Regions from separate parts of the Homo sapiens genome. Here region 1 is linked to region 2. Evidence: fine-mapped expression QTL. Tissue or cell type: breast. Region 2 holds a variant in brackets; the other region holds the start of a gene. All regions are shown on one strand. Distances are between the middles of the regions.

What was found. PIP is the estimated chance that this variant, and not a neighbour inherited with it, causes the effect.
Region 1: it holds the start of LINC01993, and the variant in region 2 is fine-mapped to the expression of LINC01993 in breast (GTEx, PIP 0.97).

The regions. Positions count from the first base shown.
Region 1 is chr17:78,275,451-78,280,450 of GRCh38, reverse strand. LINC01993 (long intergenic non-protein coding RNA 1993) reads left to right here and starts at 1,959. Exons shown (of 7, transcript NR_073178.1): 1 at 1,959-2,007. RefSeq lists enhancers at 1,426-2,259, 2,260-3,093, 3,655-3,704, 3,935-4,204.
Region 2 is chr17:78,244,240-78,251,957 of GRCh38, reverse strand. It overlaps LOC105371910 (a long non-coding RNA gene), which reads right to left and starts at 3,642. Exons shown (of 2, transcript NR_164160.1): 1 at 3,193-3,642; 2 at 1-736. It also overlaps the pseudogene THA1P. RefSeq lists enhancers at 1,019-1,068, 1,250-1,895 and a silencer at 5,283-5,483. The variant T/C (reference allele first, on the strand shown) is at 3,550.

The sequences.
Region 1 (5,000 bases), 30 kb before region 2:
AGGGCATGGCAGGTTCTGGACCCCTCTGGATTACTGGGTAATCACGTCCGGGGAGTCCTGTGCTATGCAGTTACAGTAAATTTTGTGAGCCTTTTCTCCTATGAATCTGCCTTTTGTCCGCTGATTTTTCGGCGAAGCTTCAGAGGGCAAAGGGCAGCTTTCTCTTCCTAACCCAGAATCCGACCACTTCTCAGCCCTTCCACTGCCACCCCTGGCCGCAGCCCCTGGCATCTCCTGCCCGGGGAACTTGGTTCCCTCCGTGCTCTGCCTGTTTCCACCACAACCTCCCCAGGGCACCTGGGTTGATGTTGCAGGGCCCCCTCCCACTACATGGCCCCTGCACAGACCATACTCTTCCCAAGGCCCAGGGCTCCCTGTGCCTGGCTCCAGCCTCCTTATGGTTTCTGGAACATACACCGGTGTGTCCTCCTTGCTCATCCTGACTTGTCACCTGTATCTTTCTCTCCCTACTGGAGCCCTGCAAAGCAGGCATTTTCATCTGCTGGGATATCCCCAGCCCCTGGAACAGCCCAGGCTCATAATAGACACCGAGTTTGCAGAATAAGTGAATGAATGGGAGACTGAAGGAGTGAGCTTGCTTGTACACAACCACCTCTCAGAACACACATGCATCTGTCTGCACCGGTCTGTCATTTTGAATTCTGGGGCAGGGAGGAGTGCCATTGATTTGCTTCATTCATTCGCCTGGTGGTGTGTGTCCCTCCCTTTTGACTATAGCTTACCTGGCATGCACCTTCTTCCTCACTGCCCCAAGGCCTGACCTGGAGTCCGGCCTGCCATAGGCGCCCCTGCATTCCTGCTGATGACCAGAGGGCTTCAGTGGTCTTGCCTGGAGAGAGTGACCAGTTGTGGTTGGGTCTCATTTGCATGTGCTTTGCATAATGCTTTGCATAACCTCCTACAAGCCACATTGAGCAGGGAAGGTGGGGTGCAGAGAGGACTGGCCCTGGGGCCCCCTGAGAGCTGACCCCTGCAGCAGATGTTCTGGGGTTTGGGGCTCCTTGGGGACCAGCTCCACCTGGTGCCAGTCTCCCCAGGCCAGGTTAGGGGTGCAGATCTGGACACAGTGAGGGTGAGGGTACAGGCTTCCCTCGCCAGACGCGGCTTCTCCCTTCCTCTCCCTGGGAAAGGGGAGGCCTCACTGCAAGCCCCAGGAACCTGCCCCAAGGCCCTCCGAAGTTCAGGCCCTGCCTCCCTGCACTGAAGAGGCTGGGGTTGGGGGGCAAGTGTCACCCACGCCTCAGAGTGAGCCCTAGATCTGAGGAGAGACAAGATGGGGAGGAGGGGAAGGGGGTCAGCTCAGAGGGCAGCCCTGCCCACTCTGCCATGTCCCAGCTTTCAGACGTGGCTGAGAGGACATGAGATGCCCCGCTCCCCGGAGCGGGTCACAGAACTCGGGGTAAGTTTCTGGTCTGCCTACCTGGCAGATGCCCCTAGAGAGTGGCCTCCCCAACAGCACCGACCACCCCAGGGCAGGTGGGGAGCAGCGTCCCCCACCCCATGACCCCGGCCAGCCTGGCCACCCTGCTGGGCCACATGGTGCCACAGGTCAGCAGGGGTCTTCAGGCCATGTGAGGAAGGTGTCTGGGCTGGTGGCCAGGCTGGGTGGGAGGGGTGGGGGCAGGTGGAGCTGGGTGGGTGATTGGGTGACCTCGACCCCTCAGCAGGCTGCACCAACCCTGGCTGGAGCTGCCACTGGCCTCAGCTTCCCTTCTCAGCAACTGTGACCTCAAGCAGCTGCTGCACCTGTTGGGTGTGGGTGAGCCCGGCTCTTCTTTCCCTTCCAGGGGAGGAGTCAGCCCAGGAGTCAACTACGAGGTCGGGGAGGGGATTAAGGAGCTGAGAACAGGAGACAGCAGAGGGGACAGGCTGTCTTCAAGCACAGCTGGCACCTGGGGAAAGCCGCCTCCTCCCTCCCACTGCCCCCACCCCCGCTTGTTACTGGAAATGAGGAGAGCCTCCCAGGTCCCAGCAGAGCTGCTGCTGGTAAGTCCCTTCCCCAGCGGCCCCTCCACCCCTCACAGGCCCAGCTGTGCCAGCCCAGCCTGGGCCCTACTCCCGGCTCCTGCTTTAGGTGGTCTCCTGTGGCCTGAGGCCCTGGGGGTGGGCAGGGGTAGGCACCCAGGCCCAGAGGCTCTGCGCCTGTCTCCAGGCTTCCCTGCTGCCTGGGCTCTGTGGTGGGAGGCGGGGTTGCAGGTGAGGGGAGTCCTCCGTAATCAACCCCGGTTTATAGGAATTGGGGCCCCAGTGCCCAGACTCATGGGCCTCCAGGGGAGCAGGTGGGAGGCTCTGCCCAGCCCACCTCCCTCTGAGTATGGATCTGAGGTCACACACACCTGGCTGGAAGTGACTTATCCTGTGAACCTCAGCGTCCTTACCTGTAAAAGGTAACAAAATTCTCTCTTCCTCCAAGTGGCTGAGAAAGGTAGAAAAACAGAGTAAGAGCAGCTGGTCCCAGCCCCGTGAGCACCGGCCGGGACCCCTCGGGTGGGATCCCATCGTACCATCTCTGCCCATGATCCAAGGAGACCATTTCAGAGAGGCTGAACAACATGCCGGGCTCAGGGCACGGGGCAGGCTTTAGTTTTGCCACAGCCAGCCGGCTGGTGAGCAGGGGCGGGGCAGCCGTGGGCCTGGAGAGTGGGGGCGACTTCTTCCTACCCCCTCCCAGAAGGAGAAAGCCCACATTTTTAGGTACCACAGCAGCCCTTTTGGGCAACAGGCTTCCCCTTTTTTTTTTTTTTTGGAGACAGAGTCTTGCCCTGTCGCCCAGGCTGGAGTGCAGTGGTGTGATCTCGGCTGACTGCAACCTCCGCCTCCCAGGTTCAAGCAATTCTCCTGCCTCAGTCTCCCGAGTAGATGGGATTACGCCCACCACCATGCCCGGCTAATTTTTGTATTTTTAGTAGAGACGACAGGGTTCCACCATGTTGGCCAGACTGGTCTGGAACTCCTGACCTCAGATGATCCACCCACCTTGGCCTCCCAAAGTGCTGGGATTACAGGTGTGAGCCACTGTACCCGACCCTCTTTTTTTAAAAAAACCTTTTAAGTTCAGGGGTCCACGTGCAGGTTTGTTATATAGGTAAGCCCGTGACATTGGGGTTTGTTGTACAGATTATTTCAGCACGCAGGTACTAAGTCTAGTACGCATTAGTTATTTTTCCTGATCCTCTTCCTCCTCCCAGCCTCCACCCTCTGATAGGATCCAGGGTCGGCTGGTCTATTCTATGCAGATTCTTAGAAATATCAACTGAGACCGGGTGCGGTGGCTCATTCCTGTAATCCCAGCACTTTGGGAGGCCGAGGTGGGCGGATCACCTGAGGTCAGGAGTTTGAGACCAGCCTGGCCAACATGGCAAAACCCCGTCTCTACTAAAAATAACAAAATTAGCTGGGCATGGTGGCACCTGTAATCCCAGCTACTCAGGAGGCTGAGGCAGGAGAATTGCTTGAACCTGGGAGGCGGAGGTTGCAGTGAGCCGAGATCGCACCACTGCACTCCAGCCTGGGTGACAGAGCAAGACTCCATCTCAAAAAAAAAAAAAAAAAAAAAAAGATAAATACCCCTGATGGAATGCAAGGGGAAAGTTCCGCCCTTAGCCCATCAATCCTGGCAGGTGCTCCACCCTCCCACCTGGGGACCCAGGTGGCAACCGGCAGAGCGAGCTCAGAAACTCCACGTCAAGGTAGCAAAGCAGCATCCGCCTGGGTCCCCTAAGGGAGTAGGGCTGCATAGACCGGGTGCACCCGCCCTGGGCTGTTACAGAAGGAGAAATAAACTTCTCCACAAGCCACAGCTGCTATTGTTGGCTACCGTGCTGCAGCTGCTGAGCTGGTATGTGTCTTTGTGTGACTGGCTGATTTCACTTAGTGTGATGTCTCCAAGGTTCATCCACATGATAGCATAGGTCAGAATTTCCTTCCTTTGTTAAGGCTGAATAATATTCCACAGTATGGATAGACCATAGTTTGTTTATCCATTCATGTATCCATGGACACTAGGGTTGCTTCTATCTTTTGGCTATTGCAAATGAATAATGCTGCTATGAACGCGGGTGAACATATCTCTTTGAGTTCTGCAGCTGCTGAGCCTACCTGAACTAGCGCCAGTTACAAGAAACAGAAACTCACCTCAAACCAGCCGAAGTCAAATGGAGCCTGAAATGCAAACTAAAACCACAAGACGACGCCACTCAATACCTATTAGGACGGCTACTATTTTTTTTAAAAAAAAAACAACAGAAAATAACAAGTGTTGGTGAAGATGTGGAGAAATTGGAATCCTGTGCACTCAATTTTTTTTTTTGAGGTGGAGTCTCACTGTCATCCAGGCTGGAGTGCAGTGGCACTATCTCGGCCCACCACAACCTCCACCTCCTGGATTCAAGCGATTCTCGTGCCTCAGCCTCCTGAGTAGCTGGGATTACAGGCATGCTTCACCATGGCCCGACTAATTTTTATATTTTTAGTAGAGACGGGGTTTCACCATGTTGGCCAGGCCGGTCTCAAACTCCTGACCTCAAGTGATCCACCCGCCATGGCCTCCCAAAGTGCTGGGATTACAGGTGTGAGCCACAGCGCTTGGCCCTGTGCACTCAATTTTGGTGGGAATGGAAAATGGTACAATTGCTGTGGAAAACAGTGTGGTGAGATGCTCCAAAAATTAAACATAGAATTAGCGTATAACCCAGCACTTCCACTCCTGTATCTATCCCCAAAAGAATTAAAAGCAGAGACTCAGAGATATGTTCACCCACGTTCATAGCAGCATTATTCATTTGCAATAGCCAGAAGATAGAAGCAACCCTAGTATCCATGGATGCATGAATGGATAAACAAACTATGGTCTATCCATACGGTGGAATATTATTCAGCCTTAAAAAGGAAGGAAATTCTGACCTATGCTATCACGTGGATGCACCTTGAAGACATCACACTAAATGAAATCAGCCAGTCACACAAAGACACATACCGTG
Region 2 (7,718 bases):
CCTAGCTCCTCTTCCGAGGGTCCCCAGGGCCTCTGGGCCAGCGTCAGGGACCTCTCCACATAGCCCTGGCTCCGGGTTCCTGCAGCCACACCTTCCTCTCACCCCTCAGGCCTGTTCTCCGGGCTTCCCTGCTCCTGCCTCCCCTCTATAAACCGTCCCATGATTAAACACTGCCAGTTTCCCAGTGTGTGTGTGCCGTCTGTTTCCTGCCAGGGTCTGACGACTGCAGGTGCCTCGGCTGCGTGTCCACCAAGAAGCAGCATTGCAGCAGCTTCTCCAGCAGGCGATGCTCTGTGGAGGGGCCTCCAGGCGCAGGTGTGCAGGCTGGGTGTGGCCCAGCGATTCCCAGCGCAGCACAGCTATCCTAGACTTGTGTGTTTAATGGGATGGTCTTCTGGCACGTAGCACTGAGGTGTCTTGAAGGTGCTGTTTCCTTGCCGGCCTCAGGCATTTGTGAGTTGACTGTAGCCTTAGGGCTCAGCCTAGCCACGCTGAGCAGGGCCACATGCCTCCAGACTCAATGCCAAGACCTGCCCTCCTTCTGTCTCAGTGATGTGTCACTGCTGGCGCCGGGGCTCCCAGCTCCTCCTTGGGCAGGAGTGCCACCTCCACGTCTATGAGCAGGGTGGGGTGGCTCAGGTAAGGAGCAGGCATTGCTCACCTGGGGCCCTGGGCATCCTCCAGCCAGCACAGGCTGCTCAGGGGCAAACCCCCTTCCCAGGCACCAGGCTGGGACCTGCGGAGGGGAGAAAGGGACAGCCATGGAGAAGCTGGCTGGGATGGCAGCCTCTCCAGGGGAGGAAGGAAGGAGAGCAGAGCCCCAGATTTGCCACGTGGGGGCGGCAGCGGCTGGGGCTGGCCCCAGGCTTGCCGGGCAGACACCTGGGCGGTGCTTGGTGCCTGGTGCCCTCTAGTGGACACTCGGAGCACTCCCGCGCTCCCGACGGGAGCCAGACAGCAGCATCTGAAGAGTTAATAGGGGAGGGGCCCAGTGCCCCCCAGCTGGGACGTCTGTCTAGATGCACAGAACAGAGGAAAGGCTCCAAGGCCCAGGCCTCGGGGGAGCAGACACAGGACTCAGGGTCTGGCTCCTTACTCCAGAGGAGCCCCCCACTCCGCCAAGAGGTGCCCCTGGACCCCTCAGCCCTCATCCTCTTCCTGACCCACAGAGGGCTGGAGTGCACTCCCACTCCCTCCCAGAGCTGCCCCACTGCACTCTGGACTGGCTGAGCTGGAGAGGATGATCACGCGGGGCCTCCAGAGTCCCTACCACCAGGTCTGCGAGCTCATTTGCCTGGAGAACTCACACAGCATCTCGGGGGTCCGGATCCTCCCCATCAACTACCTACGCCAGGTAGGCCCAGCCCCACCACTGTGTGCCCCCCACCAGCCTGATCCTGGCTTCCTGTGCCCCTGGCCCATCCTGGGGTTCAGTCCCCTCTGATTTATGCCATGGGCACCCATCAGCGGCCAGACCTGTCACAGGAAGGACACATGTGTGGTCCTAGGCTGAGACACAAAGGGAATTATTACCCCAGGTCAGGGCCCCTAGTCCCTGCACCAGCCCAACAGCAGAGATGCCCCCACCCCCAAGTCCCCAGAGCTGAGTCCCAGAGCAGCACCAGGACCTGCTGCCCTGGCGCAGAAACGTGTGCCCCATGAGGCTGCAGGAACAAGCTCGTGTGAGTGCCCTCCACCTGGTCCTTGCCACCCACGTGCGAGGTGAGGAGGCCGCAGTGTCTGAGCTCTGCTGTTTACCAGACACTAGTTAGGCAGCAGCCTAACTCTCCAAGCCTTGCGTTCCTTGCCTGTGAAATGGGAGCAGCGGCGTCTCCCTCGAGTTGTTGTGCAGCCTAAATGAGGTGACACACATTTACCCTTGGCCCACGGTCGTTTGGCCCATGCTCAGTGTGCGACAAAGCTGGGTTAAATGTGCACCCCCAGATCCTCCCAGAGCCCAGCATGGAGGCTTAGGCAGCACAGCCTGACTGCTTGGGTCCCAGATCACCAGAGCCAGTCACCAGCCAGGTCTCCTGATCCCTCCTGATTCCTCAGGCAGCTAAGCCCAGGACCCTCCTCCCTCTATGCCTCCCTCAGGCCTGGCCCCTCTGACTCTGCCTGCACCTCACCCCCAGGTGCACCTCCTGGCCCAGACCTATGGGGCCTGGGTCCACCTGGACAGGGCCCAGCTGATGAACGTGGTGCTGGCCCTGCATGTCCCGCCCACCTACATTGTGGAGCACTGTGACTCTGTGTCTTTCTGCCTCTCCAAGGTGGGAAAGCCCTGGGCTGGCCTCCCACAGACAGGTGGGGTGGGGCGCCCCAGCAGGAGGCAGGGTTGGATTCCTGAGCTCCATCCCTGGCAGCTGGCCCCAGGTTCCCCTTTAACACCTCTGCAGATGGGGCTACGCATCTGTCCCCACCCTGGCCCAAGGACAGGGATGTGAGCTGGCAGGAGTCTCTCCTCTCCACCTCCCAGGGCCTGGGCGCCCCAGTGGGGTCCCTGGCTGGGAGGCCCAAGGACTTCATTGAAGAAGCCTGGCGCCTCCAAAAAGCCCTGGGTGGAAGCATGCACCAGGTGGGGATGCTGGCTGCGGTGGCCCTGGTGGGACTGGTTGACACAAAGCAGGCACTGTGGCAAGACCATGGGAACGCCCAGAGATTCACCCAAGGTGCCTGGACAGGACGCCCCACCCTCGCTTCCCTGTGCTTCCTCTGACTTGGCCTGAGCTGTGCCGTCGGGGGTCCCCCAGCAGGCCTGCAGGCTTCTGGATCCTGGGACTCAGGGTGGCCATTGAGTCACTAGGGCGGGACCCAGGGCACCAGCTGCTTCAGCAGACCCTACTCAGCGCAGAGTCCAGCCTGGGGAAGCCCTCGGTGGACGGCCAGGATTGTGATGCTCTGCAGAGTCTGGCAGAGCCTCTAACCTGGGTCTTCCATCTGCTCACTGAGTCCTCCAACAATCCCATGATGTCCCTACTTCACAATGAGGAAACAGAGGCCCAGAGAGGTCAATAGGTTTGTCTGAGATCACATAGCTAAACGCAGCAGAGCCCAGTCTGTGTGACTGCAAAGGCCAAGTCAGGACACAGGGCCCTTCCTTCTCCTACCGTGACCGAACTGCCCCCTGCCTCCCGGGTGACCTTGCTGGCAATGGGGTCAGGGTCAGGGCCTGGGGTCACCTCTGCTCACCTCAGGACCTGGCCCAGGACTCCAGGAGCTGGTGTTGTCCGTCTGCTCAGTTGATCCCACCTTCGTGGAGACGAACATGGTGGTGGTGAGCATGGCTGGGTTGCGGGCCGTGAGTGCTGATGAGCTGGCCCACACTGGCCACGTGGCGTGCGTGCCACTGTTCCTATGGACAGAGCAGTCCGTGCTTCCGTGTGGCACCGCGACGTCTCGGTGTAGGACACTGAACTGGTGCTGAGGAAGTGGGAGTTTGTGCTGAGGCCGTTGGAGTCCTGAGGACGGAGTGACCGGGACCCTGTGCCCGGGCTGGGGTGGAAGCAGGGAGTGGAGGTGTTCCCAGCAAGCAGGCAGCAGAGGAGG[T/C]GTTACCTGCTCCTGGGGCTCTTTGGTCCCCTTCACCCCCACAACACTCAGGGTTAGGACCTCCCCCATGCTTGTCAGCACACACTGAATTCCTCCAGTGTCTGGGACAGGGTGTAGGGACAGGAAGGACACCCTTCCAGCTCCCGTCACCAGAGCTCGGGAGGCAGCGGGGCAGGCCTTCGCTCTAGGTCAGAGAGGAGCCCTTTCTTCAGGGCCACGTGGCCAGTTACAGCTTCCTGAGTTCAGGAAGGGAAACGTCAGAAGGAAGCAGAAAGGGACATGGGAACTTGATGGTCAGGGCTTTAACTGCCGTGGTGAGGGATTTCCATTTTATCTTGTGGTCCTCTAATACGTATTTTCCTTTTTAGAAAATAAATTACTCAGGGCCGGGCATGGTGGCTCACGCCTGTAATCCCAGCACTTTGGGAGGCCGAGGTGGGTGGATCACTTGAGGTCAGGAGTTCGAGACCAGCCTGGCCAACATGGTGAAACCCCATCTCTACTAAAAATACAAAAATTAGCCAGGTGTGGTGGTGCGTACCCGTAGTCCCAGCTACTCGGGAGGCAGAGGTGAGAGAATCGCTTGAACTGGGGAGGTGGGGGTTGCAGTGAGCCGAGATTACGCCACTGCACTCCGGCCTGGGTAACAGAGCCAGACTCCGTCTCAAAAAAAAAAAAAAGGAAAAGAAATTACTCTGCTTAACAAAATAATATGTCTGTATTGTAGATGATGTGGGAGTAAATCTTACTTTTAGCAACTCTTAGGGTAGTTCAGGCAGACTCAGTCAAAAAAAAAAAAATGAAGCCAGGCGTGGTGGGGTGTGCATCTGTGGTCCCAGCTACGTGGGAGCCTGGGGTAGGAGGATCATTTAAGTCCAGGAGGTGGAGTCTGCAGTGAGCCGAGATCACACCACTGCATTCCAGCCTGGGCGACAGAGGGAGACCCTGTCTCAACAAATAAACAAACAAACAATCTGATAGTACTGAAGAGCCTGCAAGGCAGTCATGAATTGTGAGGTCAAGATCTGGGAGAAGAGGGAACCTAGAGAGGTGAGCCTGGCATTTGGGACACTTTTCCTCGACGCGTCTGCTCGGGAGCTGAGGAACTGAGCAGAACTTTTCACAGGCACACAGGGCTGAGGGCAGAAGCTGAAGTTCAAGGCCTGCTGAAAGACCCTGGTAAGAGTCCCTCAAGCAAGACTCTGTCTCAAAAAACAAACAAACAAACAAAAAAACCCTCAAGCTTTGGGTTGAGTCCCTGAGGGGCCACCCACTAGGAGTAAGGGCAATTGGAAGTAGACTGACCATCGTGAGAAGTGAAGCCAGCTGTGAAGCACTGTGATCCCTGATTACGGCAATCTGGGGTGGTGGGTGCCTCTGGCCTAGCTGCCTGCCAGAAGTAAAGATCCGTCTTCTCTGGAGGAAGGTGACGTCTCCCAGAGCCTCCAATTTCCTCTACAGTTATTCATGTGGGATGCCCCCACTCAATCAGAAATAACCAGGTATAGAATGGGACAAGATGTGATTGAAAATGAGAAAAAAATGGACAAAAGAGGCCAGGCGCAGTGGCTCATGCCTCTAATCCCAGCACTTTGGGAGGCAGAGGCGGGCAGATCACTTGAGGTCAGGAGTTTGAGACCAGCCTGGCCAACATGGTGAAACCCCATCTCTACTAAAAATCCAAAAAAAAATTTAGCTGGTCATAGTGGTGTGGGCCTGTAATCCCAGCTATTCGGGAGGCTGAGGCAAGCGAATCATTTGAACCCAGGAGGTGGAGGTTGCAGTGAGCCAAGATCACACTGTTGTACTCCAGCCTGTGTGACACAGCAAGACTCTGTCTCCAAAAAAAAAAAAAAAGAAACAGACCCTTAGGTGACCCAGATAACAAAGTGGCTTGTGCCTGTAGTCCCAGCTACCCAGGAGGCTGAGGTGGGAGGATCACTTGAGCCCAGGAGTTCAAGGCTGCAGTGAACCGTGATCATGCCACTGCACTCCAACCTGGGTGACAGAGCGAGACCCATCTCTAAAAAAATAAATAGCTTGAGTGTGGTGGCTCATGCCTACAATCCCAGCACTTTGGGAGGCCGAGGTGGGTGGATCACTTGAGATCAGGAGTTCGAGACCAGCCTAGCAAACATGGTGAAACTCCATCTCTACTAAAAATACAAAAATTAGCTGGGCATGGTGGCACACACCTGTAATCCCAGCTACTCTGGAGGCTGAGGCAGGAGAATCGCTTGAACCCGGGAGGCAGAGGTTGCAGTTAGCCAAGATTGCGCCACTGCACTCCAGCCTGGGTGACGGTGAGACTCCGTCTCAAAATAAATAAATAAATTAATTAATTAAATTAAATATTCTAGGCTGGGTGTGGTGGCTCATGCTTGTAATCCCAGCATTTTGGGAGTCCGAGGCAGGCAGATTGCTTGAACCCAGGAGTTTGAAACCAGCCTGGGCAACATGGTAAAACCCTGTTTCTACTTAAAAGTACAAAAATTAGCCAGATGTGGCACCTGTAGACCCAGCTACATGGGGGACTGAGGTGGGAGGATTGCTTGAGCCTCCCAGGAGGTGGAGGTTGCAGTGAGCTAAGATTGTGCCACTGCATTCCAGCCTGGGTGACACAGAGAGACCCCCATCTCAAAAAAATAAAAAATAAAATATTCAAGGAATTATAAGTCAAGATAAAAAAAATTTGGCAGGAATCTTGGAACTATAAGAAGGCCACATGGAAATTCTAGAACTGAAAAATATGATAACTTAAGAACTCAGTAGATAGGTTGAATAGTAGATGAGACACAGCTGGAGAGAGAATTAGTGAAGAGGGAGATAAATCAAGAGAAAATATCCAGATAAACAAAAGATAGTTCTTTGAAAAGAGTAATAAAATTGATAAACCTCTAATGAGACTGATCAAGAACAAGAGAAAGGAAGTATAAATAACTTGTGATAATGGCTGGGCACGGTGGCTCATGCCTATAATCCCAGCACTTTGGGAGGCCGAGGAGGGCAGATCACCTGAGGTCAGGAGTTCAAGACCAGCCTGACCAACATGGAGAAACTCTGTCTCTACTAAAAATGCAAAATTAGCCAGGCATGATGGCATGTGCCTGTAATCCCAGCTACTCAGGAGGCTGAGGCAGGAGAATCACTTGAACCCGGGAGGTGGAGGTTGCAGTGAGCTGAGATCGTGCCATTGCACTCCAGCCTGGGCAACAAGGGCAAAACTCCATCTCAAAAAATAAATAAATAAATAAATAAATAAATAAATAACTTGTGATAATATTAAAAAGAATAAAGAGGCTGGGCATGGTGGCTCATGCCTGTAATCCCAGCACTTTGGCAGGCTTAGGCAGGTGGATCACCTGAGGTCAGGAGTTTGAGACCAGCCTGGCCAATATAGCAAACCCCATCTCTACTAAAAATACAAAAAAGTATCCAGGCCTGGTGGTGCGTGCCTGTAATCCCAGCTACTCAGGGGGCTGAAGCAGAAGAAGTGCTTGAACCCAGGAGGCAGAGGTTGCAGTGAGCCGAGATCCCGCCACTGCACTTCAGCCTGGGCAAGAGAGTGAGACTCCATCTCAAAAAAAAAAAAAAAAAAAGAAGAAGAAGAAGAAAATAAAAATTACCTGTATTTTTATCATCTAAGAATAACTATTAATATTTTTGTCTATTTCATTCTGGATATGTATATATGTATATAAATCTCTGCGTGTGTGTGTGTGTGTGTGTGTGTGTGTGTGTGTGTGTGTGTGTATTAAAGAGGGGAGGTATACAGTCAGATCAGTGCTTTAGAAAGCCCTTAATAGGAATCCCAGAAGGAGGATTGTTTAGAATGGTAAAGTAGAGACTTTAGCTTAAGATTGTTAACTTTGAGACCCCAAGAAGAGGTGGTTAAGAAGCTGCCAGGAATGTAAGCACAGAGCTCAGGAGGGGGCCTGGACTAGAGGAAGAGCTATGAGAAACCACAGCATGGGCTGGGTGTGGTGGGTCATGCCTATAATCCCAGCACTTAGGGAGGCTGAGGTGGGTGGATCACCTGAGATCAGGAATTCAAGACCAGCCTGACCAACATGGAGAAACCCCATCTCTACTAAAAATACAAAATTAGCCGGGCGTGGTGGCACATACCTGTAATCCCAGCTACTCGGGAGGCTGAGGCAGGAGAATCA